Homo sapiens: one gene and its partners. The protein of the gene in region 1 purifies or fractionates together with the protein of each later gene. This does not show direct contact. Each region holds a gene or a part of one and is shown on either strand. Other genes may lie near its edges. The genes, in order: ITM2B, BTN2A2, DCBLD2 and SEMA4F.

Evidence for each region.
Region 2: the proteins of ITM2B (region 1) and BTN2A2 purify together in Homo sapiens (affinity purification with mass spectrometry; 3 studies listed by BioGRID and IntAct, with this or other methods). This does not show direct contact.
Region 3: the proteins of ITM2B (region 1) and DCBLD2 purify together in Homo sapiens (affinity purification with mass spectrometry; 3 studies listed by BioGRID and IntAct, with this or other methods). This does not show direct contact.
Region 4: the proteins of ITM2B (region 1) and SEMA4F purify together in Homo sapiens (affinity purification with mass spectrometry; 3 studies listed by BioGRID and IntAct, with this or other methods). This does not show direct contact.

What each region holds. Positions count from the first base shown.
Region 1 is NC_000013.11:48,229,289-48,236,208, forward strand, and holds the start of ITM2B (integral membrane protein 2B), read left to right. Parts: upstream 1-3,917; 5' UTR 3,918-4,072; coding exon 4,073-4,189; intron 4,190-6,920. UniProt on the Homo sapiens protein: Plays a regulatory role in the processing of the amyloid-beta A4 precursor protein (APP) and acts as an inhibitor of the amyloid-beta peptide aggregation and fibrils deposition. Plays a role in the induction of neurite outgrowth.
Region 2 is NC_000006.12:26,386,108-26,393,129, reverse strand, and holds part of BTN2A2 (butyrophilin subfamily 2 member A2 isoform a precursor), read right to left. Parts: intron 5,118-7,022; coding exon 4,836-5,117; intron 3,126-4,835; coding exon 2,919-3,125; coding exon of another isoform or gene 2,860-2,918; exon of another isoform or gene 2,444-2,859; coding exon 2,423-2,443; exon of another isoform or gene 2,328-2,422; coding exon 2,301-2,327; exon of another isoform or gene 985-2,300; coding exon of another isoform or gene 835-984; exon of another isoform or gene 756-834; coding exon 163-755; 3' UTR 1-162. UniProt on the Homo sapiens protein: Inhibits the proliferation of CD4 and CD8 T-cells activated by anti-CD3 antibodies, T-cell metabolism and IL2 and IFNG secretion.
Region 3 is NC_000003.12:98,898,692-98,906,274, forward strand, and holds the start of DCBLD2 (discoidin, CUB and LCCL domain-containing protein 2 precursor), read right to left. Parts: upstream 3,005-7,583; 5' UTR 2,636-3,004; coding exon 2,431-2,635; exon of another isoform or gene 1-2,430.
Region 4 is NC_000002.12:74,649,496-74,657,248, forward strand, and holds the start of SEMA4F (semaphorin-4F isoform 1 precursor), read left to right. Parts: upstream 1-4,751; 5' UTR 4,752-4,881; coding exon 4,882-5,026; intron 5,027-7,038; coding exon 7,039-7,190; intron 7,191-7,753. UniProt on the Homo sapiens protein: Probable cell surface receptor that regulates oligodendroglial precursor cell migration. Might also regulate differentiation of oligodendroglial precursor cells. Has growth cone collapse activity against retinal ganglion-cell axons.

The DNA of each region.
Region 1 (6,920 bases):
TTAAAATAGAAACGGGGTCTTGTTATATTGCCCAGGCTGGAGTGCAGTGACTATTCATAGGTACGATCATAACGCACTGCAACCTTGAACTCCTGGACTCAAGCAATCCTCTGGCCTCAGCTTCCTGAGTAGCTGGGACTATAGGCTTGTGACACTGCACTTAGCTTGGTGGCCTATTTTTTAATGAGGTGGTTTGTTTTGTTATTGTTGAGTTTAAAGAGTTATTTGTGTATTTTGGATTCAAGTCTTTCATCAGATACATGTTTTGCAAATATTTTCTCCTAGTCTGTGGCTTGTCTTCCCATCTTTTGATTTCACTCTTTCTATGGTTTGTGTTTCTCATCTTTTCCATCTTTTTCCTCCCTTTCTCTCTCTCTCTCTCTCTTTTTTTTTTTTTTTTTTTTTTTTTTTTTTTTTTTTTGAGACAGAGTTTCGCTCTTGTTGTCCAGGCTGGAGTGCAATGGCGCAATCTCGGCTCACCGAAACCTCTGCCCCCTGGATTCAAGCAATTCTCCTACCTCAGCCTTCCGAGTAGCTGGAATTACAGGCATGTGCCACCATGCCCGGCTAATTTTTTGTATTTTTGTATTTTTTTTTTCTTTTTTTTGAGACGAATTCTGGCTCTGTTGCCCAGACTGGAATGCAGTGGCGTGATCTCGGCTCACTGCAAGCTCCGCCTCCCGGGTTCACGCCATTCTCCTGCCTCAGCCTCACGAGTGGCTGGGACTACAGGCGCCCGCCACCACACCCGGCTGATTTTTTGTATTTTTTTTTTTTTTTTAGTAGAGACGGGGTTTCACCGTGTTAGCCAGGATGGTCTCGATCTCCTGACCTCGTCATCCGCCCGCCTCGGCCTCCTAAAGTGCTGGGATTGCAGGCGTGAGCCACCGCGCCCGGTCAATTTTTTGCATTTTTAGTAGAGTCGGGGTTTCTCCATTTTGGTCAGGCTGGTCTGGAACACCCGACCTCAGGTGATCTCCCTGCCTCGGCCTCCCAAAGTGCTGGGATTACAGGCATGAGCCACCTCACCCAGCTTCTCCCTCTCTTTCATCAGTGCAGAGCATATCCAGTCTTTTCACAAAGCAAAACAAAAATCCCAAGTGCCACAGCCAGTCAAATCAAAAGAGATCTGCATTTGTTATTAGGATAATTCCTAAAGGGTCTCGGGATATTATAGAGCCCAAGATTTGAAAAAGAAAAAAAAATGCATCTGCTAGTTCAAGGAAAATAATGATAAATTATTTTAAAATTACATGAAAATAATTTATATAAAATAAATTAAAATAATTGAAAAGCATATATAATATTGAAATAGGAAGTCGGTAAGAAAAATAAACAGTGCTTAAGTCTCTGAAGAGGTCAGTCAAAGCCTTCAAAGCTCTCACCTAGAAGAAACACTTCTTTTATGAAAGTTCAGACAAAGCCACAAGATGACCAGCTAAACTCACACATTGGGTTAAGAGAAGAGGCAACAGGAGCACATTTCAAAGGGCTTATTCAGTGACGTTGTTTCACCAAGGACCCTATACTTGTGAAAAATAAAATAAAATAAAGTTTTCCAATCATTCTGTAAAACCACAAGAAATTTCTCTGAATAAGGAATTGTTTCCTTGAGAAAGAACAGACAGAATAGAGATGTAAAGAACCTAAAAAGAAAAAAAAAATCCCTGTTGAAGCACATAATGCAAATCTATTAAAATATTTTAGAATTCAGTTCCCCACTTCCATTTTTTCCTCCCTCCTTTGGTAAGCATAAAAACAAACATGGTTGCTGGTGATATGCAGAGCTGGAATCAGATTCATCTTGCTCTCTCAAACTCAACGTCAAAAAGGAAAACAAAGGTCCTCTAAGACTCCCTTTACATTTGGTAGTTAATAGTAACTTATAACTATGTTTTTAACTTTCTTTTGTTGAGTCATGGACTCTCCTCCTCCCTGGCTCCTAAGTTTTCAGGGTCAACGGGCAACCTTTTCTAAATCACAAGACTGGATTTGCTATGTTTGGTCTTGCTCCAGCGTCTTTATTATCCCTGCTGTTGTGCACTACACAGTTCTGTAGACACATGAGATAAAATGGAGAAAAAAAACCAGGAGATTATTCCCAGACCGGTTGCCAACTGATTTTAAACTGTTGCTCACTGCAAGTACACAAAATAATGAATGGTCTTTTATTCATGAGTCTTTCAAAATAGAAATCCTGGGGCGGGGAGGATTTCTAGTTTTGTCAACCTCATTTGTTCATCCTTTGCCTCAGCTTCCTAGTCTGTTCAGTAGTGTTGTTCACGAAGAATTTTGTTTTATTTTCTTCTGTAATTCCTTTTTTCCCCCCGGAGTATAATGACAGCCAGATTCTTCTCTATCATCTACTGCAAAATGCCTTGAGTATTTTTCTACCATCTTATTTTAACACAGAACGAAGTAGGAAGGATGTACATATAATTATTTATAATCCTCCAGATCTTGCTTCCAGAAATACTTAGTCTTCAACTGTAATGTCTCAGGGAACCTATTAAACTAGGGAGCTGGAAGCAGTCGTTGACTTTGAGGAATTAGATAACATTAGATACTATGAAAGTCCAGTCCATAGAGTCAACCTCACAGAGCCGATGCCTGCACAAGGGCGACCCAGGAGTTTAAATAAGTTGCTGCAAGTATGGTTAGCTACTGTTAAAACTCACCAGAACTGGAACCTAACTCATCCTCCTCTTGGTTGAGCAGATTTCATTTTGACAGGAATTTCTGAATACCCAAAGCAAACTCAAAGTCTGGCCTGGGTTTCTATCTCAGCCCAGGATGCTTCTGAAATACATGAACAGAAGGATTTGGAGATCTTGGGCTGTTTCCCTGGGACTTATGATCTGACATTCTATGGAAATACCCAACTCCCTCCTTGAGCAGGGCCAAATCCCCAAAGATCTCAGACTGAACCCACTTTTTTCAGGGTTGGCCCAAGGCAGAGCTGACACAGCTGTAACATTCTAGAGCACACCCACAACTCTGGATGAACCAGGACAGAATGGGGTGGAAGGATACAAGATAACACATTTGTCCAAGGGGGCCGTCTGTTGACACAGTAATGAACGCAGTAACGACGGGAGCCAGTATTCTACCTCGCATTAGTTGTAAATGAAACGTCTTCAAAACATGAGAATTTTGCGTTATCCTTAATTATTTTTTCATTTTGCAGAAAAATAAAGGGACTCGTCATCGAGTACTTTGAGTCACAAATCAGCCAAGTGTGCATGTGGTTTTTTTCCAAGTACGCACAAGAGTGGAACATTTCGTTTTACGAGTGTGAGATGTTTGAAATACAAATCTGCCAAGAGCTTCCTCCACATTGGTCTGGGACTAGGCAGAACAGGCCCTGACCTCCTGAGAGAGGGAAGGAAGACCAGGCAGGTCTGAGCCAGGTAAACGCCCTTGGGTGAGGTCCGTGAAAGATAAAGTCAGATCTCAAGGACAGAGAGCTTTAAACATGTTTGTGCTCCACTGAGTCGGTTACCTAATAAGTGAGAAAATGAAGATGTGGATGCACAAAAATTCCATGGCCTTTAGGCTCGCGGTGGGGACAGGGTACAGGGAAGCGGCGGTCTGGTGCTGCCAAAGGTTAGTCCCTTGTACCCGGCGAACTCAGGAAAGTTCACTCGATTTCGCTACAAACCTGCAGCACTCGGCCTGGAGGTAACCTGGTTGGGAGCGAATTCAGAACTGGAAATTCCAGGCGGCCCAGAGGGACACCCATCCCTCTCCGAGGCGCGCCGGGATCCGGCGCCCAGCTGCGGGGCGAGGGCAGGGTCCCGCGCAGCACCCCACCCCCGGCCGCTGGCCCCGCCCCCGCCCCCGCCCCGCCTCCCAGGGGATGTGCGAGCAGTCTCCGCCCTCGCGCGGGAGCTGGGAGGCTGCGAGATCCCTACCGCAGTAGCCGCCTCTGCCGCCGCGGAGCTTCCCGAACCTCTTCAGCCGCCCGGAGCCGCTCCCGGAGCCCGGCCGTAGAGGCTGCAATCGCAGCCGGGAGCCCGCAGCCCGCGCCCCGAGCCCGCCGCCGCCCTTCGAGGGCGCCCCAGGCCGCGCCATGGTGAAGGTGACGTTCAACTCCGCTCTGGCCCAGAAGGAGGCCAAGAAGGACGAGCCCAAGAGCGGCGAGGAGGCGCTCATCATCCCCCCCGACGCCGTCGCGGTGGACTGCAAGGTCCGAGCCCGGGGAGGTCGAGGAAGCGGGTGCTGGGCCCGGCCGGGGAGGGCTGCGCGGACTGCAGCGGCAGTGCGCCCCGAGGTGGCGGGCGCGGGGCTCGCGCCGCGGGGACAAGTCCCCGAGAGAGCCCGGCGCTCCCGTTTCCTGTGGGTCCGCAGCTCCTTTGTAAGGAAGTGCGTGTGCTGGAAGCGGTGCCTGACGCGGGGTCGGGGGCTTGGGAGGCCTGGAGAGGGAACGATTGGCTAATTGTGCCGAATTCCCGGTCGTTTGTGCAGTCCGGGGAGCGTGCGTGCAGCCAGGACTTGGCTTGTTCGATCTGGGGACCGGCAGCGACAGGCACAACAACAACAACCGAGTTTGGCACTTCCTTCCCAGTATAAATAATGTACCTAAAATGGCTGACATCATTACAAGCCTAAACCTCTGTTGTTTCCCACTTTCGTTTCTAGGCTTGAACAGCACTTGGACTAAGTCCAGCAACTGTAAGCGTCTTAATTTTAAAAGCGTTTCTTTACCTCCTTTTTCCACGGCCCTTCGGTAGTGGCAGGTGAACTTCACCTGGAGAGGGGACGAAGGGACAGTCCGCCCGAAGTAGGTTTGGGCTGTCTCTTACCATTACTAGTAAAGGCCAGTAATGACTATGTGGATGTTAGTGAAAAACCAATTGTTGGCATTTAAATTGTATCAGCGTCTTTGTGAGGACTCCTGCTGCGTGAAACTAAACATGAGAAATTTGCCCCCGGGTCCCTAATAAAATTCTCCTTTATTTTACAAAATCTCCCTTTAATCCTAGGAAAATTCATGAAGTGGGGCTGTTACTGTGTTGACTTTTAGTAGGTTACGATCATATTTACTTAAATATGAGTGTAATTGTCTCATAAGTTAAAAAAGCCCACAGCCTCTTACCCAGACCCTTTTTAGGCTGCAAAAATTAGAAATTAACTGTAAAGTTATGTTGCTTATCTTATTTTTTGTTGTTGTTAGCATTTTTCAAGACCTATTATCAGTAGGGTAAATTTAGTTTTAACTTAAAAAAATTGGTGTGCCACGTATGAATAATGGGAGTTTTTATATGGACGAATGAAAATTATTGCTGAAAAACAGGCCACTAATATACTGTAAAAAATTCACAATATAATGGTAATCTAGACATCATATTATAATTTATTATATTCTGAATATAATCTATCTTCAGAATATAATGGTAATCTTACTTTCTGGAAATGTTCTGATAAAAACAGACACGTCAGAGGTTGATTTCTAAATGACTTGCCTTGCCTTGAAATAGGAACAGTGAACTGATTCCCTAAAAGGATTAAAGGTTTTGGTTTTCGTATTGGTATTGTTTTCCTGAAGCCATTGCAAACAATCTTGGTCTTTAAAGAAAATGTTTGGAATGCACAGATGAAAATTGCAGTAGCAAATTATTATGTTAGCTCTTTGTTTATCTAACATTCGTTGTACCTAAAATAGATTGAGAGTCAAGTATCCAGTCACAACAGTCTCAAATATATGTAGTCTTAATGCTATCACATATATATATATACACACATACATTTAAAAATCCTATTAACAAATATAACTGCTCCCATTTAGAAAGGAGAGAGTGAGCGAGCATTGGATGATGTCACTTCAGACAGCTTTTCTCTGTTCCGCTGTAGTGGAGATTTGAAACTCTGGACAAACATCAGAATTACATTTGCTGAGCACCATTAAATCTGACTTCTGACAATTTTTGTCATTTCTGAAATAGTGACTCTGCCAGATTCTCAAAATTGCTCACGAGTTCACCATATTTAAATTTTGTGGTCATTGCAGCTATAAGTAATCATTGGTAGCTCCGTGCTTTGTTTTCCATTTTTTATTTTCTCAGATCCTCCATATCCAAAGAAAAATACTACTGGGACTAAAGAGTGAGGGCCAGAGTCGTCTTTGTAAACCACCCAGCAGTCACGGATGAGTTGGTAGATAAAAAATGACTAATTCTTTTTCCAGCTATAAGCTGAAAGACTTCTTTAGGGGATGACAAAATATTTCTCTACATTAAAAGTAGAATCCTTATAATCAGTCAGTCGCTTAACGGGAAAAGGAAAACCTTAATGACAGACTTTTGTGAAAGAAGTTCTGATCTCTTCATTTCAGAGCTTGGGCAGTGATTACATAATGTTCTCTGGCTCCTTGCGGGTGGCTCTGTGGCAGCCACCTTGTCTGACTGCCTGGACTGGGAACAGAATCAGCCTTAATGTGTTTTGCCGAGGGCATTTCCTTTGCCTGGTTGGTTGAAAGAATCAAACCAAGCTAGTTAATGGCCTAGAACTCCTGAACAAGAATTTTTCTTATCTTTAACCCTCCCAGATCACAATATCCCGCAGACCATTGTTTTCCAAAATGTGCTCTTAGGGACCACCTGCTCTGGTTTTAAAATGCAGATTCTGTTACCTTATGCCACAAGAATTCTGATCACTCTAATCAGCTGGCTTATATAACATGCATTCCAGTACTTTTACATTGCTCCTGTCTTTCTATTTTTTTCTTCTGCAGGGTGAGAACTCTCCAGAAACAGTTCTATTACCCCATTTTTCAGTCTTATCTTTTCAGCAGCTATTAATCCTAACAGCCATTTCTATTGATAGTTTTATCTCAACTAGCTTGCTGTTTATTCTTTTCCTGCATTTTCCCCTTAATTGTTTTCACCTTCCTCCTCTCCTAGTAGGCATAAAGCTCTTAG
Region 2 (7,022 bases), on another chromosome or scaffold:
AACTGGGGCAGAGGGCTGGAGTGGGTGTGAAAAAGGCAGCTGGAAGATGTTCTCTTACGTGACCAGAGGGGAGGAGGGCGTGTCTTTCATTAGGGGGGTTGTGCGGTGGCTGCTGAGATGGCCAGGGCTTATCTGCATGGCTGTGAGTCCAAGGAATTGATTCTATAGGCTCTGGTGGGTCCCCACTCTGTGAAGTTTCAGGCCCTCTTCAGGCACCATGACCCCACTGGCTCCTGTGAGTGCAGGGCAGATGAAGATGGGGCTGTCATCAGACCCTAACCTGAAGAAGGGCCTCACAGGCACAGTAAAGGCTGAACGGGGACATGTGTAGATGTGCGATCTGTCCCTCATGTTGTAGAAGGAGACATCTCCAGCTTCATAGTCCAGGAAGACGCCCACCCGGCAAAGGGACTCCTTCAAAGGGAGAATCCTCTCAGGGGAGGACAGGGCCCGGTATTGGTTTCCAAACATCTCCAGGGTCCAGAAGCCATTCTGAGGAATCAGCAGGACCTCCCCTTTCCTCTCAACACTGTGTCTGCAGACCCCCACAGTCCACACCATCACGTTTTCCACCTCCACCTCCCAGTAATGTTTCCCTGAGGCGAAGCTCTCCCATCCCAGGACACAAGGCTGACTGTCGAATCTCTCTGGGTTGTCAGGCACTCTCTGCCTGTAGGGGCCCCGCCTCACACTTCTCCGGTCCTCTGACAGGAAGAGCTCGGGATGAGCGGTGTCTGGATCCAGGACCACATCAGCTGCAGAGGAAGTCTCAGGTTTATGCCTGGGGTCTCAGGAACCCTGGGGATTGTGTGGTTCCTGGTCCCCAGAGAAGTCTCAGAAAGCTGAAGGGGGTTCCCCATGTAGTGGCCGTTTCCATGAAGGTCCCCTGATCCCAGGCAGCTCATACCCTGAGAATTACGGAAGCTGCACTTCTATCTCTCCAGAGACAGAAGCAGTGCCCCCAGGTTGAGAAGAATTGTGGCTCTATGAAATCCAGAGAGTTTAGGAAATGAGCCAAAATTAATGGTTCCCAGTTTTTCTCAGCATTCTAAGATCTGATCCCTTTTCTATTCAAGATATATGATCTCTGGGACTTTCTTTAGTTAGAAACTTTCCAACTTGGCTTAAACCATCACAGAAGCTTTATCTCCTATTGTTCCCCCACATACCTCTCAATGGATCAATTAAGTGAGTCTATCATTACACACTGTCCTAGGTGGTGAAGGACCTCTTCGTTGGTCCTATAGGTTGTTTTAATAGGTGACAACTGATTTAAGTGGCTGACAAGGGCACACTTCAAAGGATAAAGAAGGAGAATAAATGTGTGCAAAAGAAAACCTGGTGCCTGAGGGATGTGTGGGCAAAGTTAGGGAAGAAATACTTCAATCCAGTTTTGCTTTAACAATATGAGTCTGACATCTACCAGGATTACTTCTCCCATACAGGAAAAGCCCCAGGAGCTGAGCATTCTGCAAACCTCTACCTTCTGCATGTATTCTTACTTATTCAGTCTACCTTTCTATTGCATTAAAATGATTTTCTCTTTTCCACAAGTTGATATGTCTGATTGTGACAAGTTGTGATTGTGTCCCAAAATGACAGTGGCAATTTTGAAACTCGCCAAAGAGGAAAGGTCCATGGGCCCTGGTATCTGGTAAAGTTTGGATTCTTTGGTGCTGACAGGCAGAGGTGCCGAATCACAAGATGAGAACTCACTGGAAGTGGGCGATTGGTTTCTCTGTGCTCTCCCACTCACCCTCCCACTCACCCAAACCCCTTCCCCTGGCAGACTACATGCAGAATATCAGTGCTCTCTTAGAGGCAGAAAGGTATTTCTGGCCACCTATTTGTACACCATTGCATCAGGCTTACTGGGGACCCTTATGGCCTTTTCCTCACATAGGTCTTCAACTGTGCACAGTCTATACCATTCCCAGGATATGAATTGCTAAGACAGCATTATCTTATTTCAAATTGATCCAGAATCAAAGAGCAATGACTTCTGAAATGTAACTCTTAGGAGGCTACTATGCATGGGAAACCTTTGATAATCATGCATTAAATTATTCCAAAAGAGAAAGGGTCCTGGGGATGTAAACTGCAGGGTTCATTAAGAGCTGCTGGGGTTCCCTGACAGAAGAGCCATGATGCATCATTGCTGGGACACCGTTGATGAACTGACCCCAGTTCCCTATGGTCCCTGTGTAGCCCTGGGCCCCTTGCTCATCTCCTCTAAGGAGTCCTGTTAGCTGGCTAGTGGGGAGAAAGCTGAGATCTGAGAGAACATCAGAGGCACTCACCAGCATGTAAGAATGTTCTTCTCCATCCTGCAAGGGACAGACAGAGGTGAATGTCACGAGACACTGCTAAGTAAGCAGAACACAAATTGTACACGGAGTAGTTCAGGAAAGGCTAAACTTACGCAATTCTTCTTGAAGTTGCTCTGAAAACAAAATACAGAAACAAAATCATGTCTTCAACAGAAGAACTAAGAGAAATTGAGCTTGTATTAAACAACGTAGGAACCATCCTTTCTATGAACACCAACATCACCCTTCGTTTATGCCTAAGGAACAGTCAGAAACCAGCAATGATGTATGATCAGATGGCTGGGTAGTATCAGTACATTGTTAGACTTTTGTCTGAACTTTCGTTCAGCCATGTAGTGCTGCATATAGCCAGGTGAATGAATGTAATGTGTGCAGCATGGAAGAAAGAAAGCTCTGAATGATTACTTCTTATGACATGAGAGTTCCAAGCCCTTGTGGCTGCTGCTGTGCATTTCCTCTCTCTCTTCCCTAAGCCGGTACCTGTGAGAGCTGTGGCCTTTCTATGACAGTCAATTGTCCTCCTACTCATTTAACTTTTCTTTTTGAATTTCTTTCTATTTTTCCACACTTTCTTTACAAATTCCTTACGTGCAATTTCTTTTTCCTCTTGTTCAACTTTCTTTTCCCCTGACAGAATCTTTTTTTCCCTTTGAAGTTTCTTGATGCAACAGATGCTGACAGCCATGAAGATGATGAAAACAGCCAGGATGACAGTCATGGACACCATCCAGGGAGATGCGGTCAGGATGACAGCTAGGGCCACCATCCAGGGAGATGCGCTGGGCATAAAGGATTCTGAAAAGGCAGCCAGAAAAGTCCATTTAGTTTGAAATAGAACATCTGGATGAGAGTGCCCCTAAGAGCACATCTGAAGAGCTCCTCAGCCACCTGTTCTGTTGGCTTCTCCCTCAGAAACCTTAGATGGAGAAAGCGATGCTGGCTCAACACTGGCTGACACCTCAGTGACTGCCAGGGCCGGGCCCAGAAGGGGGCAAAGCAGAAACATCTGGAGTCACCATGGAAAGGACCAGAGTGCATAAAACTAACCAGCCATGCTGAGTCAGCACAGCCATCACCCTGCCTCAAACCACCATCACTCACGCCTGGAATACTAGAGTGCCCTCCTTCTTGTTCTGCTCTATTCTGTAATCTACTCTCAGCAGAGCAGCCCAAGTGAGATCATGTTAATTATTTGCTCAAAACCTTCCAATGCTTCCCACTCACTCACTCTAAAAGCCAAAGCCTGTTTGTGGCCTGTGCTGCCATATATAACGTAGTTGCATCACTCTGTGAATTCATCTCCCCCTACTTCCTGAACTCACTCCATTTCAGCCACACCAGCATCACCTCCTGGGAGTCCTGGAAACTGCCAGACAAGCTCCTTCCTCAGGCCTTTTGCATATGCTCTTCCTGTACCTTGGCTGCTCAGTCCTTAAGCATCTGATGGTTCCTTGTCTTGATTGCTCAATTTCCATCTTTACAGTGAAGTCTTCCCTGACCACCTTGTTAATAATTCTGATGCCTCACACCCCTGGAACTCTCTATTTTCTCTTTGCTTAATTTTTCCTACATGCTCGTCACCATGTGATAGAATATATAGATTATTATTTATTTAATCACTTGTTTCAATTATTTCATATATTGCTGTCTCTCTCTCGCGCTCCCTTTTTTTCTTTTTCTTTTTTAAGACAGAGTCTCACTCTGTTGCCCAGGCTGGAGTGCAGTGGCACGATCTTGACGCAAGCTCTGCCGCCTGGGTTCAAGCAATTCTCCTGCCTCAGCCTCCCAAGCAGCGGGGATTACAGGCGCCTGCTACCGCACTCGGCTAATTTTTGTAGTTTTGGTAGAGATGGTGTTTCACCATCTTGGCCAGGCTGGTCCTGAACTCCCGAACTCATGATCCAACCACCTTGGCCTCCCAAAGTGCTGGGATTGCAGGTGTGAGCCACCGTGCCCGGCCGCTGTCTCTCTCTAGAATATGAACTCCTTGAGGAGAGAAATTTTGATATATTTTGTTCAATTATTGACCCTTGGTTTCCTGTACAGTCTTAAACATAAGAAATGCTTGTTGAACATTTGTTGAATACATTTATGAATGTCTCTTGATAGGGAATTTCCCCAGCTCTGTCCTTTGGGAAGTCCCATAGACAGGAAGGGATGGCTGCAACATACAGGAATGCCAAGCATAGACAGTCACCCACCCACACTACTCTCCAGGTTTGATGGTTGTCCTTAATATTTTACAACTGTTGCAGCATAAAGACCTAATCAAGAAAAAAAAGACCAGGTTTACCCTCAGAGAAGAGGCTCCTACTCTTGTGTTTTGGGACTCTTTGAATCTCCCTTTGTGAGGAGGGGAGACGTCTCAACTCAGCTGCAGCCTCCAGCTCCTCAGGGCCCAGGACCATTCCACCCACACTGCTGCCCCCATTCCCGCTCTGGGCTCCATCTGGGTGCTGAGGATCCTGCATACACTTGATAGGTCTCAGAGGGCAGAGAACTAACCTGGAATAAAAATGACAGTTTCCTTCTCCTGGCCGAGCAGGGTGTTGTTGACAGAGCAGGACACATTCCTCACATACTTGTCTCTGATGATCACAGCTGTGGTGACCATGAAGAGGCCGTCAGCATCAGCGATGGAAACCTCCTTCAGGGCGGGCACAACCTCACCGTAGGGGTCCCTCCACACTGTGAGGGGCTCTGGGTACCACCCTCCAGATATGCACTCCAGCCAGATGCTCCCATCCTCTTGGGCCTTGATTTCAATGAGGGGCTTAGACCCAAGGCCTGGAAAGGGAGACCAGGGCTCAGCCAAAAGGCAGTGGTATCTTAGCCCCTACTGCACCTTGATGGATGGTTGCTAGAAAGACCCTTGGTTTTGGAGAACATCAGGAAACCAATATGCAAAATAAATTGTGAGATCTCAAAGAGAAAGGATCACATTGCACACTTTTCTTTATGCTCCACCTGAAGGCCCCATCACAGCACCAAGCATCTATCTGTCTGCTATAAATGCTTGCTGTGCAATTTATTCTGGCAAAGACTAATTTTCTCACTTCCAGGAGGGTGTGTCCAAATTCTCAACAGGCAGGTTGAGAATTTCACTTTCTGCTCCTGGGATGACTTCTCTGCAGACCTCAATTTCCTGAAGCTCTAAAATAATACACTAATGACAGAAACCTATCAGGTTGGCAGAAGCTTTTTTTCCTTTCTTTCTTTTTTTTTTTTTTTTGTAGAGATGGGGTTTTGCCATGTTGCCCAGGCTGGTCTCAAACTCCTGAGCTAAGGCAATTCACCTGTCTTGACCTCCCAAAGTGCTGGGATTACAGGCATGGGCCACTATGCTCAGCCTTGGCTAAATCTTAAGAAACTTTTTGAACCAAAGTCACTGACACTTCTGTCTAGTTCAGGGCCTCACATCACCATGGCTATCTACCTCCATAGGAGGTGATGGTTTTTAGGAGAATAGACAGAACTAGCTGGCAAAGCCAATTCTTATTCTAATTCACAGTTGTTTACCTCCCAGAGGTTCCATCCAATAGAGAATTTTCTTACAGTCCTTTAAGAACATCAATGTATTAGAAATATCTGGATGCCCCTGGGATCCTTAAGATAACCATATTGCCTCCTCAATGTCAGAGATCATCACCAAAAATCCTAATAATTCAGGCTCATCCTAAATATATTCTATCTTTACTAGAACCTTCAATGAAAGAGAATACCCAGAGTGAGAGAGCTGCAAAAGCATGGTCCTGGGAGACCCTTCAGCCATGCGTGATCATCCAAACTTCTCCTGAATAATTCCTTTGTAAAGTCTCCCAACAAATTATGTTAAAGAAAGAAAATTAAAGCAATCACTTAAGCCTAGTGCTTTCTGCTCTGTTTAATTTTTGTCAGGAGAAAAAAGCTAGTTGTGCATTTGAAGGCTCACACAGAAATCCTGAATTAGAAAAGAAATTAAAATACCTCAGCAAATTGGAAAACAAAGTCCTACAAAACATTCCATGGGTTCAATACGGGTAAGCATGACACAATAGATTTAAGGGAAAAATCAGCCACCAACCAATCCAACAAACAGAGTACAATAAGCAAGCAAACAAAAAGTCCTACAGCAACCCAATTCAGACTAGGGAAGGCCAGGACAGGGTTGGTTTTACAGAGAAAGAGTAGTGGGTCCCTGCCACATACAACCATTCATTACTGGGCAACATTGCAGTGCTGCTGTGAACACAGTCATGACAATGGGTCAAGAAGCCCTCCATCCACGATATTCTGTTTTAATCAGATGTAAGGTTGCCTTTGTGAGTAGCAAAGATAGGGTCTCCTACCTGTTATGATTTGGGGCCCCCTGGGAAGAACCCAATTTCCTAGTCCTTGCCTCCACTGGTCTGATGGACTGAAATGTCACCACGAATTATTCTGCAACTTAAAGGCTTTTTTCAGTCCTGAAATATACCTTTTAAAGCAAAATACACTAACTGCAACACTGAGGTAATCACTTAGTGTCACTTTTAACAAACTATTAGAAATCCCAGTTTAAGTGCATTTCTATGCTGAAGCCTTGCCAATTTCTTCCCAGCTAAATTCTTAGTCTTTCTCTGTGGAGTTAGCAGGAATTATAGATAACTTTGTTTCTGTATTTAGTTGTGCTTTAATAAAAATCATCTATTTATATAAAAGTCACTCTCTCTG
Region 3 (7,583 bases), on another chromosome or scaffold:
GAGGGAATATCAGTAGACCCTAAAGAACATCTGTTAGACTGGGAAGACTGGCTTAAAAGGAATTCCACCACGGGCTGCTTTAGGGTCCTTTGAGTAAAAAATTTAATTTTTAAAAATGAGAAAATTCAAATCTCAAATAATTGTGAGTTTTCAGATGATGTATACCTAATTAGCTCTTAATTTATCAACTTAGTAAGATCGAGATTAGTAATAATCATTTATAGCTATTTTAAGCTTTTCCCTTTGCAAAATTCCTGCATACTATCATTTCATTTATATTAAGCTATGAGATAGGTATGCATGCTCACCTTAATGATGTAGAAAACTGAGGTACAAAGAGATTAAATATTAAATGATTTAGCAAAATTTACCCAAGCAATTTAGAAGAACTAAAAAAAAAAAAAGTCTTTTAATTATCAGAATCATTTCTATTTATGTTGATGTTTACATAAGATGACACTGTTAAAGAGAAATGTATTTGTTAAAATGTTCTGGTAAAAAAAAATTATATTAAACCTTAAAAAATGAAGTAATGTTGCTTGTCTGATTAGACTGGCTATTTCTTTTTCTTTTTTTTTTTTTTTTTTTGAGACAGTCTCGCTCTGTCGCCAGGCTGGAGTGCAGTGGCGCGATCGCTGCAACCTCCGCCTCCCGGGTTCAAGCGATTCCCCTGCCTCAGCCTCCTGAGTACCTGGGACTACAGGCATGTGCCACCATGCCCGGCTAATTTTTTGTATTTTAGGAGAGACGGGGTTTCACCATGTTGGTCAGGATGGTCTCGATCTCCTGACCTCGTGATCTGCCCGCCTCAGCCTCCCAAAGTGCTCGGATTACAGGTGTGAGCCACCGCGCCCGGTAGACTGGCCTTTTCTAAAAACAAGGCAATCCCTCATTTGGAAGGTAGACATGTAACTGATTCTATACTGTTCCAAGATTTTTTTTAATAACATGATACAAACACTATCAGATCCAGAAACAAGCAAAGCAGAGTACTCTGCCTATGGAGTAATATGCCCTCCTGCATCAAGGTACCTTATATTCTTTGTGTCTCAATGTCCTTACGTTTGAACTGGGATAACAATAACTATCTCAGCTGATTGTAGTGAAGATTCAAGGAGTTAATAAACCCAAACCACTTAGTCCAGTTGTTCCAGCCACAAAGTAAGCCCTAAGTGTTAGCCATATATAAGCCTGTTTTCCCCCCTACCAGGAGGGAAATACATCTCTACAGTGGAAAGAAGGATTTCACACTTTAATATATTAAATGATGATGATGTTCAGTAATTTTAGAAGACGATCTAACTAAAACCTAAATGCTAAGCATCTAAATTTTGAGTTACTCTATATAGAAACGTGTCTAGATGTAAGGGGTCAGTTTGCCAAATACATTTTTTCCTTATAGTTACAGAGATTATATTTCCACATGCCTGTCAAGGTTCGGCATCTTCTTAATGACAGGCCATGATTCCATACTTCACTGAAAACCATGAGAGCAACATAAAGCTGGGCTTAAAGGCAGAGAACAATTTTCTTTTTAAAAAACTCTCTTCCTAGCAATAAGTAACAATCCAATCCTTATCCTTCCCACTGCAATAAAATGGAAAATGCAATGGAAATATCTTTTCAAAAACTGATGCCAAACTGATTCAAAAAGTGTGGTACACTACGGGAAAACAGTACTAAAGGGGAAAAGAAATCACCCTGCATTCTCCTTCCATTATGATAAGTATTTAATAAACAGTTTTGCCTGTTTCTGGAACAGGTTTTTCAAGGATTGTAGGTGGAAAAAAAAAAAAGTTTTGTCACTTTCTGGAAAGGCTTACCTTTTTAATGTGGAGAGCTTCACTTGGGCAAATTAGCATAGCGTTGGGTCAGACCCAGTGTTTGACCAAGGCAGTCTAGACCACCAGCCTCAATGATGGATTGTAAAGAACATGTTCTGAATCCAAGACTCAGAGATAAGCAGAAACTATTCCATTCGCTTCAGAACCCGGGCTCTTTCACAAAGGATCATAATTACCACCACTTACCTTTAATAGGCTTAAGATGCTATTTAATTAACCTGCCTTCCTACAGTGTCCATCCATCCGTGCAGCTTAACTTTAGGGGTCATTACCTCCAAAGGTTCTTTTTCCTCCCCAAAATTTTCCCCAGAAGGACCTAATATCAACGAGGCTTTCATAGCAGGGTCTCACGTCCCCCTTTCAGAAAAATAAATGGCCTTGCCAAAAAGTAAAGCCGCGCCAACTTGGGGGACAGACGGGCAAGACCTTGCCTTTGCAACTCAACCCCGTGAGTACCCAGCCAGGTCCGGCCACGCACGAAAGCGCACCGCGCCTCCCTGCAGCGTCTGCAGATTTGTTCAGGGGCCAAGAGACCCGCAGCCCCGACGGAGGTTCCCCCGCCGCTCACTCCCCTGGGACCACTCACCTTGCTGGGCTCCAGCGTCCTCGAGCAGCAGGAGCAGGACAAGTAAGAGCAGGAGGAACAGAGGCATGGAGAAGGAGGAGGAGTTGGAGCAGGGAGGGAGGGAGCGGGAGAGGGGGAGCGCGGCCCAGGCGGGGGCGGCGGCCGCGGCCCGGACTTGGGGACACTGCGGGCAGCGCCTGGCTCTCACCACCGCCCGGCTCGCCATCGCGGCGGCCGGCAGTCTGCCTGCATAGTGCGGGTGCCTCGGCAGCCCCGCGCGCCTCTGGCCGCGGCACCCGACCAGGAGACGGCGGCAGCGGCGGGAGAACAAGAGGCAGCCCTCGCCTCACCCCGCGCCGGGACCCTTCCGCCCCTCACCCCGCTTTCACCTACTCCTCCTTCGTCCCTTCCCTCCGCTCCCCGCGCCGAGACCCCAGGCCGGAGCGCAGGGGAGGGGAGGGAAGGAAGCGGAGTCCTCGAGCCGCGGAGGACGGCCGCGGCGGAGCTAAGGAACGTGCCTCCCGCGCCGCGCTCCTCACCAGGGTCGCCGCTCGCCGCGCTCACCCGCGGCTCCGGCTAGCTGGCAGGCAGGCCCGCAGCCAGCTCCCTCGCGCTCCCTCTCGCGCGCGCCGGCCACGCCCCCTAGGCACCGCGGCCAATCCTCGGCCAGCTCTGGTCCGTCTCCTTCCGCGAAACCCAATCAGCATGCTCGCTCCTCGCTCGACCCGCTAGTTCTCCGGCCCATTCCTCGAGCTCCACCGCCCCTTACCTCCCTCTTCCAATCCCCTTCGGCCTTTGGAGGCGTCCCACCCGCCTCCTCCAATCCAGGTCCCGCCCTCCAGCTTCGGATCCCCGCGGCCCCCGCCCGGCCCGGGCGCCTGTTATTGTTGGGCCCTCAGCCCAAACTGATCCCGCAGAGGCGGCAGCCAGCTCGTCAGTGACTTCCGGGACGTCCCCCATCCCGCGCTCCCTGCTCCTCAGGCCCAGCTTGCTCCTTGCTCCTTTCTCCTCGCTCCTCCGACGCACATCAGACCACTGGAAGGGGGTGGGAAACCTGGATCCTGGGTTGTTTTAGCTGGGAGCTGAGTCTAAGGGACTTTTTTTTTTTTTTTAATGGCAGAGCGTGGCTTGTTTTGTTAAAACTGCCGCCAGTTGTTGCAACAGCTCCGAGTTAGAATAATAGATGCAGTGTTCAGTTTTTAATATATGTGTTCCCTGTTTTCTCTGCTCTTTTTATGGCGGGGGGTGGGGGACAAAAAAGTGTAAAACAAGATCCGTGCCGCAAAGGCAATTTAAACCTAACATCCCAACCTTCATGCAGCCATTCTACAAGGAGTTGTTGAGCACCTGCTGTCTATCTACAGAAATCTTGAAATGTGGAACAGAGATGGAAATATAGCATGCAAGTCAGAATGAAGTAAGTGCTAATTAGAGTCACAAGCAGTTTGATGGAGACTGTAAGCCTATGGAACGACAAAAAGAATTTTAGGAAAGAGGAATGCAGAGGTCTACGCAGTGATTTATTTTAGAAGAGAGTGGCCATGTAGGATGTTTTTAACAGCAGTCCCTGAAAGGACAATGGTGTCATTAGCAAATACAAAAAACTGCTAAGGTGGAACAAGTTGTGTGGGAAAGTAAGTTAATTTTGGACGTATTGAATTTGAGATGCCAACTTAGATAATAAGTGAAGCTATGTAACAGGCAGATGGATATTTTAGTCGAAAGCTCAGATTGAGAGCTTTGAAATTATGGCTCTGGGAGTCATACATAGCCATACATGTATACATATACATATGTATACATAGTCATACATAGATGTGATATTCAAAAACATGGAAGGGACTGATATCCTTCAATGAAAGTCTAAGTTGGAAAGGACTTTGGAGGTCGTATGTTTCAACTCCCCTGCATATTTCTTATACAATAATCTCTTTAACCAAATTTATTCAATTAACATTTATTAAATGCCTAAGAAACCCTATTATGCTCTAAGCCATTGTGGGCATTGGGCATAAAAAGTTTACTGAGAAGAACTTACATTCTGGAGGAGGAGGTGACATGTAAACAAACCTATTGTTATTAGTGCCCTGTTAGAGGTGTGGACTGGTGCCACAATACCACAGTGAACGGAGTTCAAAAAAACCCGTCAGTTTGAAATGCCAGTGTCTTGAATAAGAAACTAAAGTGAAAAAGGTGATCTCAGGCCAGAGGCAAAATAGGCTGGGTCACAGGCTCAATAGGGAATGGTGTTGATGGAGCTGGATTGACTACTGCTGACGTAATGGGAGGAACTGGAGACTAGTCTGGAAAAGTTAGGAGGGGCAAGATGTAAGGCAAGCTAAGAGTCAAGATTTTATTTTGTATCACTGGAAAATAACTAAAGGGTTCTAAGAAAGAATGACATTGTCAGTTTTTTTTTTGTTTTTGTTTTTGTTTTTGTTTTTTTTGAGATGGAGTTTTGCTCTTGTTGCCCAGGCTGGAGTGCAATGGCATGATCTCGGCTCACTGCAACCTCTGCCTCCCGGGTTCAAGCGATTCTCCTGCCTCAGTCTCCCTAGTAGCTGGGATTACAGGCATGTGCCACCGCACCCGGCTAATTTTGTATTTTTAGTAGAGCCGGGGTTTCTCCATTGTTGGTCAGGCTGGTCTCGAACTCCCGACCTCAGGTGATCCACCCGCCTCAGCCTCCCAAAGTGCTGGGATAACGGCGTGAGCCATCGCGCCCGGTCATTATCAGGTTTTTATTGTAAAAACCCCAATCAGCCAGTAGGGTGAGGAATACATTGGTGTAAGAGCAAGACTGGAAGCCAGGGAGAGCCAGTCTGCAGTTAAAGGGAGTGATGGTGAGTTTTTAGTGCATTAAAAGTGGGCTTGGGAAGGCGGGACCAACTAGGGGAATATTTTTAAACTTGGTGACTGATTATGTGGAGTGTAAGGAGTTGAGGAAGTCTCCAGGTTTCTGGTAGAAGGTGATGTCTTTCCCACAGTAAGGAGTACAAGAAGGAGAATTGGTTTGGTTGGATAAAGAAGTAGAAGTTAAAAATCATAAATTCAGAATTGAACCTATCAGACATGATGTGCTAATGTGGCAAGCAGTCAGTCATGAAATAAGATTTCTAGTAGTAGTGCCTGAGACAACCTATTTCATGTGGAATCACTCCTTTCATAGGACCATTGAAAGAGAAGCTTGAGGTCACAGATGTGGTGGCAGAGCAAGGTAGTGTGAATCTTAGCCTGGCATTCTATTGACTACATAGAACTGTGGCAGAGGCAGAGAATTCACCTAAGAACTAGCACAGTTATGGAGCATTTCTGGAAGAGGCAAAATTTGGTCTCTAGCAACCCCTACCCCTTTAATATAGCAGGAAAAGATCCCGACTACATACGTGTAAAGCAAGAGGAAGGAGCACTTACATTTCTCATCACTGTTTTACTTACTGTCTAGTGTTTTAAAGTTGTTAAAAGTAGAGACTAGAGAGGTGAAGAGGTTCTGAATTAGGTCACTGGCAGGGAAAAAGAGAGGGAGGTGGGAGCAAGTTGGAGTTATATTTAAAGCAGCAAAATCAGAAGGTCTTAGTGACTGATGCCATTTGACTATTTCTGTGTTATTTTATGCCTCAGCTTCCGGAGTTTCGCTTTGGAAGACAGGGTCTGGAAGTCTGGCTAGAGAACATTTGTGGTGCCCCCTATTGCTTTATGTATATAGAAAATTACAAATATAGCACAGATGTGGGAGAGGATTGATGCTGTTGCACCCATATTCTCTCTTCTGATTATTGTCTCTCTACTTAGTTGCCAAACAATGACAGAAGGCTGCTCTGAAATGATCAAAATTTTCTCCTGGGACCTCACACCAAAGGAATATAATAGGCATTCATTTCTAAGACAATGCGGGTAAAGTGGAATTCTAGTTTATATTACCTTTCTTATTCTCTGCATGCTGCTCTAGACAACTTTGTCATGATCCTTGCTTCTGGGGACTTGGTTTGTTTGGGGAATGACATCTTATGAGGCAGTGGGAGCAATACTTGTCCAGGACCATTTTACCCATGCAACCCAGATGCATAACCCAGGGGCAGAACTGGGGATTCTAATCAAGTCTCAAAGTGGATAGGTTTGGAGAGGGCCATCATTGTAGCACATAGAGGCTCCAAGAAGCTACAGTTCCTCCACAAGGCAAGCCCAGGTTCTGGCTTCTTTTTACAGGGTTTCAAAAGTGTGTATTATTTTATTGTATTTCTGGTTGTTTACTCTACATTAAGATATTTAAAAATAAAAATAGATTCTCAACCTAAATTTTAATTTTTTATCTCTCTTCCTCTTTTTCTCATTCTTTATTTCATGTTTCTTAATCAGTAAAGAATGGAAGAATAGGCCGGGCGCGGTAGCTTACACCTGTAATCCCAGCACTTTGGGAGGCCGAAGCGGGCGGATCACGAGGTCAGGAGATCGAGACCATCCTGGCTAACACAGTGAAACCCTGTCTCTACTAAAAATACAAAAAATTAGCCGGGCATGGTGGCGGGCGCCTGTAGTCCCAGCTACTCGGGAGGCTGAGGCAGGAGAATGGCGTGAACTCGTGAGGCGGAGCTTGCAGTGAGCCGAGATTGCTCCACTGCACTCCAGCCTGGGTGACAGAGCAAGACTCCCTCTCAAAAAAAAAAAAAAAAAAAAAGACCGGGTGCAGTGGCTCATGCCTGTAATCCCAGCACTTTGGGAGGCTGAGGCGGGCAGATCACGAGGTCAGGAGATCGAGACTATCCTGGCTAACACCGTGAAACCCCGTCTCTACTTAAAATACAAAAAATTAGCCGGGTGTGGTGGTGGCGGGTGCCTGTAGTCCCAGCTACTCGGGAGGCCGAGGCAGGAGAATGGCATGAACCCAGGAGGTGGAGCTTGCAGTGAGCCGAGATGCACCACTGCACTCCAGCCTGGGTGACAGAGTGAAACTCCGTCTCATTAAAAAAAAAAAAAAATGGAAGAATGAAGAAAATCAAATTAATCTATAGGGAAAAGGGGAAATATAAAAAGAATAGTTACATTTTACTATTCCTACTTTCAAATGAATCCAAGCTCAGCCAACTGCTAAGGAAATTAGAATGTAGGAAAAGAACCTGGGGGCTGGTGCCTTTGTTTCTGTCTGTGCAGAAACATCTGGGTTTCAATGAAATGGT
Region 4 (7,753 bases), on another chromosome or scaffold:
TGTCTTACTCCCCTTTGTGTTGCTATACCAGAATACCACAGAACAACTAACTTGTAAATAAAGGAAATGTATTCTTAAATTCTGGAGGGTAGGAATTCCAAGGTTGAGAATCCCACATCTAGTGAGGGCATTTTTTCTGTGTCATCCCATGGCAGAAGGCAGAAGGGCAAGGGGTACAAAAGAGCAAGACAGCAATAGGGAGCTGAACTCACTTTTACAACAAACCCACTCTCTCAATAACTAACTCATTTCCAAGATAATGACATTAATTCATTTATGGGGGCAGAGCCCTTATGGCCTAATCACCTCTTGTTAGGCCCCACCTCTGAACACTATTCCATTGGGTACTAAGTTTCCAGCAAATGAACTTTGGGGGACGCATTCAAACTTGAGCACTAGCCTCACTCCAAACCATACCACCCATTGCTCCTACCTACTATTAATTTCTTTCCGTACCCTCTATAGCATTTATTAAAAATATGCAAAGAACTGTACCAGAAATGGGGACTATGACATAAGAATTGTTTTCTGAGGGTGATAAACTATAATGGTCATGAGAAAGCACCTTGCAGACTTTAAACTACAAGGAGTGTAACTGACCAAGGGCATCAGCTGCTGCCTTAGAAATCTACTGCCACGACTGGGCTCCGTGGTTCACGCCTGTAATCCCAGCACTTTGGGAGGCCGAGGCGGGTGGATCACCTGAGGTCAGGAGTTCGAGACCAGCCTGACCAACATGGAGAAACCCCATCTCTACTAAAAATCCAAAATTAGCCGGGCATGGTGGTGCATGCCTGTAATCCCAGCTACTCGGAAGGCTGAGGCAGGAGAAACACTTGAACCCGGGAGGCAGAGGTTGCGGTGAGCCAAGATTGCACCACTGCATTCCAGCCTGGGCAACAAGAGCAAAAACTCTGTCTCAAAAAAAAAAAAAGAAAGAAAAAAGAAATCTGCCACATTTGCATGGAGGCCATCTTCCCAGCCACTGACTGAATGTGGTGGAGATACTAAGGCAGACCCATTCCTGGGAAACACTGCACTTCTCACACAGCACTCCTCACACAGCACTCCTCTAATGGGCAACATTGGCTTGATGATTCCCCAACAGTCTTGCTGAACTATACTCCAGTATGGAGTATAGTATGTGGAAGAGGAGTGTCAAAGATGAAGCAGGAGAGATAGGCAAAGGGCCAGAACATATACGATCTGTGGACTATATTAAAGATTTCGGATCTTATCTCATAGCAAAGGCGGGGTGGGCTGGAATGGGGAGATAAACTGAAGTGTTTAAGCAGAAGAGTGACATGATCTGATTTGTGTACTGGAGAGAACATTCTCCCTGCCTCCCTGCCTTAAAAGGAATGGATTGGGGGCTGAAATTGGGGTGGTGGCAGCAGGGCATAGGGACAAGACAAGAGTAGGAAGGAGCCCAGGCAAGAGAAGATAGTTGTTTGAATTAGGGTATTGGCAGAGGGGATGCGGAGATGTGGGAGGAAGTATTTAGGAGTTAAAATTAACAGGCCTTTATGATTGATTTGATTAAGAGGAATCCAAAATGACAGGGCCTAGAACATAGTAGGCATTCAATGAATACTTATTGAATAAACAAATGCAAAGTCTCTGGCTTAGACAGCTGGAAAGACAGTAGTGCTATGGGGAACATTGGTTTTAGCATCCACACAATTACCAGGATGCTATGAGGGTGGGGACGATAGTTCAGTTTTGGACATATTGAAATCAAGGTGCCTGTGGTTACACTGTGTGGAAATGTCCACTAGGCACTTGGATGTGTGTGTCAGAAGCTGAAGAGAAAGATATGGCCTAGAAATGTAGATTTAGAAAATCATTATTAACTAAATTAGTATGAATGAGACTACATAGAACAGTGATTTTTTTTTTCAAAGTGGGGATCTCAACTCATTAATGAATAGTAAAATCAATTTAGTGGGCTGCAACCAGCATTTAAAAAAATGGAATAGAATAAAATGCAACATGATAGGGAAAAAAATGAGAATTTAGCTCCTGAAGTAAAGATAAATATAATGTAAGTATGACTTTGTTAAAAATTTAACTCACTAATATGTACATTGGGTACATGAATGCATGTACTTAAGTGCAATTAGGTTGCACAATAAGAACCTCTTATTGTATGTTTTGTGAAAAAAATTGAAAAAATATTAAAAAAATCAAAAGACAACCAATAAGTCATGTTCAGAGAAGGGACTAAGGCCTAGACTAGACTGCTGAGAAGCAGCTTAGGAAAGGCATATAGTGGGCTAGAGGAAGAAACTCAGACGGGGGGCAGGGGTTCCATTGTGTTGAGGTTGGTTTTAGAAAGAAGATTTCAGAGAGAAGATTAGAAGTACTGATCCCAAATGCCTGATTTTCCCTCTAGGCTAAGCAATTTGAATTCAAGGACAATGGCTTTTTTTTTTTGGCAGGCTAGAGTGCAATGGTGTGATCGTAGCTCCCTGCAGCCTTGAACTCCTGGGCTCAAGTGATCCTCCTGCTTCAGTCTCCCAAGTAGCTGAGACTACAGGTGTGTGCCACCAGGCCTTGCTATTATTATTATTTTGCAGAGACAGGGTCTTGCTATGTTGACGTGGCTGGTCTCGAACTCGTCTTCAAGTGATCCTCCTGCCTCAGCCTCCCAAAGTGCTAGGATTACAGGCATGAGCCACCATGCCCAGCCAACGGACCATGTCTTAATCTTATCTCTAGTACTTAGTAAAATGCCTGGCACATATTAGGCCCTTAATAACTGTTGAAAGAACAAACTAGAACTAGTACTTGCACTTTAGAAAGATTATCCTGATGGCAGTCTGGAAGGGGAGGGACTGGAGGCTAGGTTTTTGTTTTTTAAATGAAATTATCACACAGTCCAGGTGAATGATGATGATGTCCTGAACTATGATGATAATGGAAAGAAAAGGATGGATTTAAGTTACTTTTTAGTCAGATTTATAAGGACATAGTGATTTCTTACATATGGGCATGGTAGCTAGTCTCCAAGAAAGGAGGCTGAAATCCTTGTATTCCCAGTGAAATCCCTGTACCACCTGGTGAAGTCCCCTTCCACAGTGCATCAGGGCTGCCCTGTGTGACAAGTAGAATATGGCCGAGAGATTGTGTGTTACTTCTGAGGCTAGGTCACAAATATATCATTTGCTCTTTTGCCTTGTTCTTTTGGATCACTTGCTCTGAGGAAGTCACCCCATTTTGTGAAGACATTCAAGCAGCCCCATGGAGAAATTCATGTGGAGAACAACCTTCACTTACTGCCAACAGCCACTACCAATTTGGCAGGCATGGAAGTCCGCCATCTTGGAAGTGGATCCTCCAGCCCCAGGCAAGCCTTCAGTGGACTGCTGCCCCGTTTGATATCTGGACTGTAATCTTGTGAGAGACTGGAAGCCAGACCACCTAGCTAAACTACTCCTAAATTTCTGACGCAGAGAGATTGTGAGAGATAATAAAAGTTTATTCCAAATGTCTGATTTTCCCTCCAGGCTAAGCAATTCGAATTCAGGGACCATGTCTTTTGTTTGTTTGTTTTAAGCCACCAAATTCTGAGGTTAATTTGTTACATTTGTTTTGCAGCCTAAATAACTAATACAATGGGGGTGAAAGAGGAGAAAGCAAAGACTACCTACTAAGTGCAGACTAAGTGCTTGAAGAAGGAGCTAGGGGCCGGGCGCGGTGGCTCACGCCTGTAATCCCAGCACTTTGGGAGGCCGAGACGGGCGGATCACGAGGTCAGGAGATCGAGACCATCCTGGCTGACACGGTGAAACCCCGTCTCTACTAAAAATACAAAAATTAGCCGGGCATGGTGGCGCGCGCCTGTAGTCCCAGCTACTTGGGAGGCTGAGGCAGGAGAATGGCGTGAACCCGGGAGGCGGAGCTTGCAGTGAGTCGAGATCGCGCCACTGCGCTCCAGCCTGGGCGACAGAGCGAAACTCCGTCTCAAAAAAAAAAAAAAAAAAAAAAAAAGAAGGAGCTAGGGTTGGGATGGAGGAGATAGTGAGTTATCCTCAGGACCTATGCTTGCCTTGTTTATAGGATATCCAAGTGGATATGCCCATAGGCAGTCTTTGTTCCTCGCCCTCAAAGGCCTACCAACCCTAGAAGAATCAGTTCAAATGTCACCTCTTCTGTGAGGCCTTCCTGATTTCCTCTGGCAAAACCTGGCCCTTCTGCACACTTATTGCACGTTATTATAGCAAACGTGCATTGCTTCGTATTGCAATTATCTATTTGCAGTTATTTGCTTACATTTGGAAGCCCCATTACAGTGTGAACTCCCTAGGGCAAGGGCCGTGATTTTTAGTATTTTCTGTATAATCGTGTGTGTGTGTGTGTGTGTGTGTGTGCGTGTGTGTGTGCGCGCGCGCGTTACACTGTGCCTGCCCAGCACATAGGCAGCCGTCCTTAAATGCTTGCAAAGTATTAATTTTGAGAAACTTGGTGCGTGTATCCACGTCCTCTTATTAGTAAGTTTTCCTTATTAGTACAGCTATGGGCGTTTGAGTTTTTGGAGTGGCCGGAGCAAACTCGCCACTCGAGGTCCCTGAGTGGCAGCCCCAGCGCACTTCCGAGGCAGAACTCCCACCTTCACCTGGGTCTAGCTCCGCCTCTGCCTGGGTTAGGCCTCTCCTCCCCTCAGCCCCGCCTTCACTCAATCCCGATTGGCTGGAGGAAGAAGGAGGCCCGACCATTGGCCCCTTTCTGAGGGGGCGGAGCCGGGCGGTGTTTCATCCCTCAGCCTCAGGCTGAGCCGGACCGAGCCGAGAGGACCCGAGTGGGGCCGAGGCCAGTAGCCCCGGGGCCCTGAGCAGAGGCCGTAGCTTGCGCCGCACCCGCGGCCAGGCGGAGCCAAAGATGCCGGCCTCTGCTGCGCGGCCCCGCCCGGGTCCCGGGCAGCCTACAGCCTCGCCCTTCCCGCTACTGCTGCTGGCGGTGCTGAGCGGCCCGGTATCCGGCCGCGTCCCCCGCTCGGTGCCCAGAACCTCGCTTCCAATCTCTGGTAAGGCGCGGACGCCCACGCCCTCAGCCCTTCGCGCCCACACCCACACCCACACCCACCTGCTCCTCAGACCGCTCGGCCGGACCCGGGCCTCTCAGCCTGGTGTATGGCGTTTCACGCCGCCCACGCCCCGCCGGGACCGGGGCGAGATCTTCGCACTTCACCGCATCCTCTCTGCATCCCTCCCGCGCCCCTCAGCCCCTCATCCCCAGCCCGGGCCTCGCGCCTCGGCTCCCACGACACGCCCAGGCTGCACCAGCGGGCCCTATTCCCGGAGCCGCAGGAGCGTCCAGTCCTCACCGTGCAGACTCGGACACTGAGGCCCAGAGCTCGGGTGGGGGCTGCCCGAGGTCGTTCATTTCGAAGTTCCGTCTCCCTTAGTCCCCTGTTTCCCCGCACATACACCTGGGTCCATCATTCCAGCTTGACGCCCACTCTGCTTTCAGACCCATCAGTCTTTCATTCTACTCCAGCTTTCCATTCCGATCTCCAGGTCAGCATTTCCATCTTCTCCAATTCATTTCCCTATCAGTTCTATACATCATCCGAGCCTCTTGGCCCTTCTGACAGCCCTTCCCGCTCCCCTGACATCTCTGACAGCAGCTCCCATTCTCCCATTATTGGATCCACGTTAACTCTCTTAACTTCCTCAGTGTTCCTCGCTGCCTCTGCCCATTCCCTACATTGAATATTGGTAAACCATTCAATGTGTTGATGTAAAGTTCTGCTTAAATGATTTTTCAAGTCTTCAGAAGGAAAAATAGAGGAGGGGGATATGATCCTTTGAAAAGATGTGGAAGAAGCTAGGAGACGTCACAAGGTTAAAAGTGATCATTGGGGCGATTCACATTTTAGACTCTGCTGAGGTGGGTATGAGCATGGCCGTGGACCTTGTTGTCTTCTCAGTGGGCATTGAGTGTTATTAGCACCTTGGGCAGACAGAACCAGTGAAGCCAAGAGTACAACCTGTTGGCAACAACTCTGGACTGGTTAATAGTAGTTTAGAGTTTAAATTCAGACTAGTGCCATATAGGGATGCTGTGATTCCAGAAGGCGAAGTTGTGGCCAGAGCCTGGGGTTTCAGTTTGCACCCAAGCAATAGCCACAAAGTAAGTTGAGATTGCCAGGCTGGGTTGATGTCCAGGCATCCAGAGATGTCTAGATGGCAAGCAAGGTGAAGCAGAGTTGAGGATGTGAGGGGAAGTTAGGTGATCCAGGGCTTATACTAAGCATGAGAGAGTGGGCACAGAGGTAAGTATGGGTGTGGGAGGAAGGAGTGGGCGGGACTCATCAGTACATCTAGGAATGAATGGGTTGGTGTCCAGTCTGCAGTCTTGAGGGTACTGAGCAGAGGAAGCAGGTAGAGCAGAGCTGTATTGGTGCAAGGGTAGGGTCCCCAGAACCAGAGGTTGAGCTAGGAAGGTAAATTCATGCCAACTTATTCCAGTCTTTAAATAGATACGAATTTTGAATGCTAATATGAGGTTTAGATTTTTTTTTTTTTTGAAGCGGAGTCTTGCTCTGTCACCCAGGCTGGTGTGCAGTGGTGTGATCTTGGCTCACTGCAACCTCTGCCTCCCAGGTTCAAGCAATTCTCCTGCCTCAGCCTCCCAAATAGCTGGGATTACAGGTGCGCGCCACCTTGCCTGGCTAATTTTTTGTATTTTTAGTAGAGACGGGATTTCACCATGTTGGCCAGGCTGGTCTCAAACTCCTGACCTCAAGTGATCCACCCACCTCAGCCTCCCAAAGTGCTGGGATTACAGGCGTGAGCAACCGTGTCCAGCTAGTGCTCTATTTTTATAGAAAAAGCATACTTACCCACTGGATTGTGTGCTAAATATTCTGGCCTCATCTATCTCTGGTTCACTTGTCAAGGCTGTGTTTCTCCCCCATGGCTGCTTAATAAATGGTACTTGGAAGAAAACAAAAATTGGCCCCTTTGGTTTTGCTCTTGTGGACTTGACCCTTAGGAAGCGATGGCTAACATCACTCTCCTCTCTTCCTGCCAGAGGCTGACTCCTGTCTCACCCGGTTCGCAGTCCCTCACACATACAATTACTCTGTTCTCCTTGTGGATCCTGCCTCCCACACACTTTATGTTGGCGCCCGGGACACCATCTTCGCTTTATCCCTGCCCTTCTCAGGGGAGAGACCCCGCAGGGTGAGAGACAAGAGAGGGAAGGACCCCTGACCCTGTAGCATGTGATTAAATCTATGATTTTATGAGTGTGTGTGGGGGATTTCATAATAACTAAAGATGTAACAGCAGGGGTAGTAGGAGGGGGTGAGTTGGGAGACATGGGGGGAGATCATCCACTTTGTTTTCTTAGCTAAGAGTATGGCGGGTCAGGGTGACTGGGGAGGATATGAAGGAGGTTCATGATGATGGGGAGGAGACCACAGTGACCAGGTTTCAGGTGACAATGGGCAGAGGGATCATTAAAATTACAATACTCTAGGGAAACAGCTTTCAAACTTTTTTTTGACCATTATTAGAACTATACAGTTTGAGCATCCCTAATCTAAAAATCCAAAATTCAAAATACTCCAAAATCTGAAGCTTTTTGTGTGCCAACATGGCACTCAAAGGAAATGCTCATTGGAGCATTTTGGATTTTGGATTTTCAAATTAGGGATGCTCAACCAGTATGTATTCTGCGAATATCCCCAAACCTGAAAAAATCTGAAATGTAAAACACTTTTGATCACAAGCATTTCAGATAA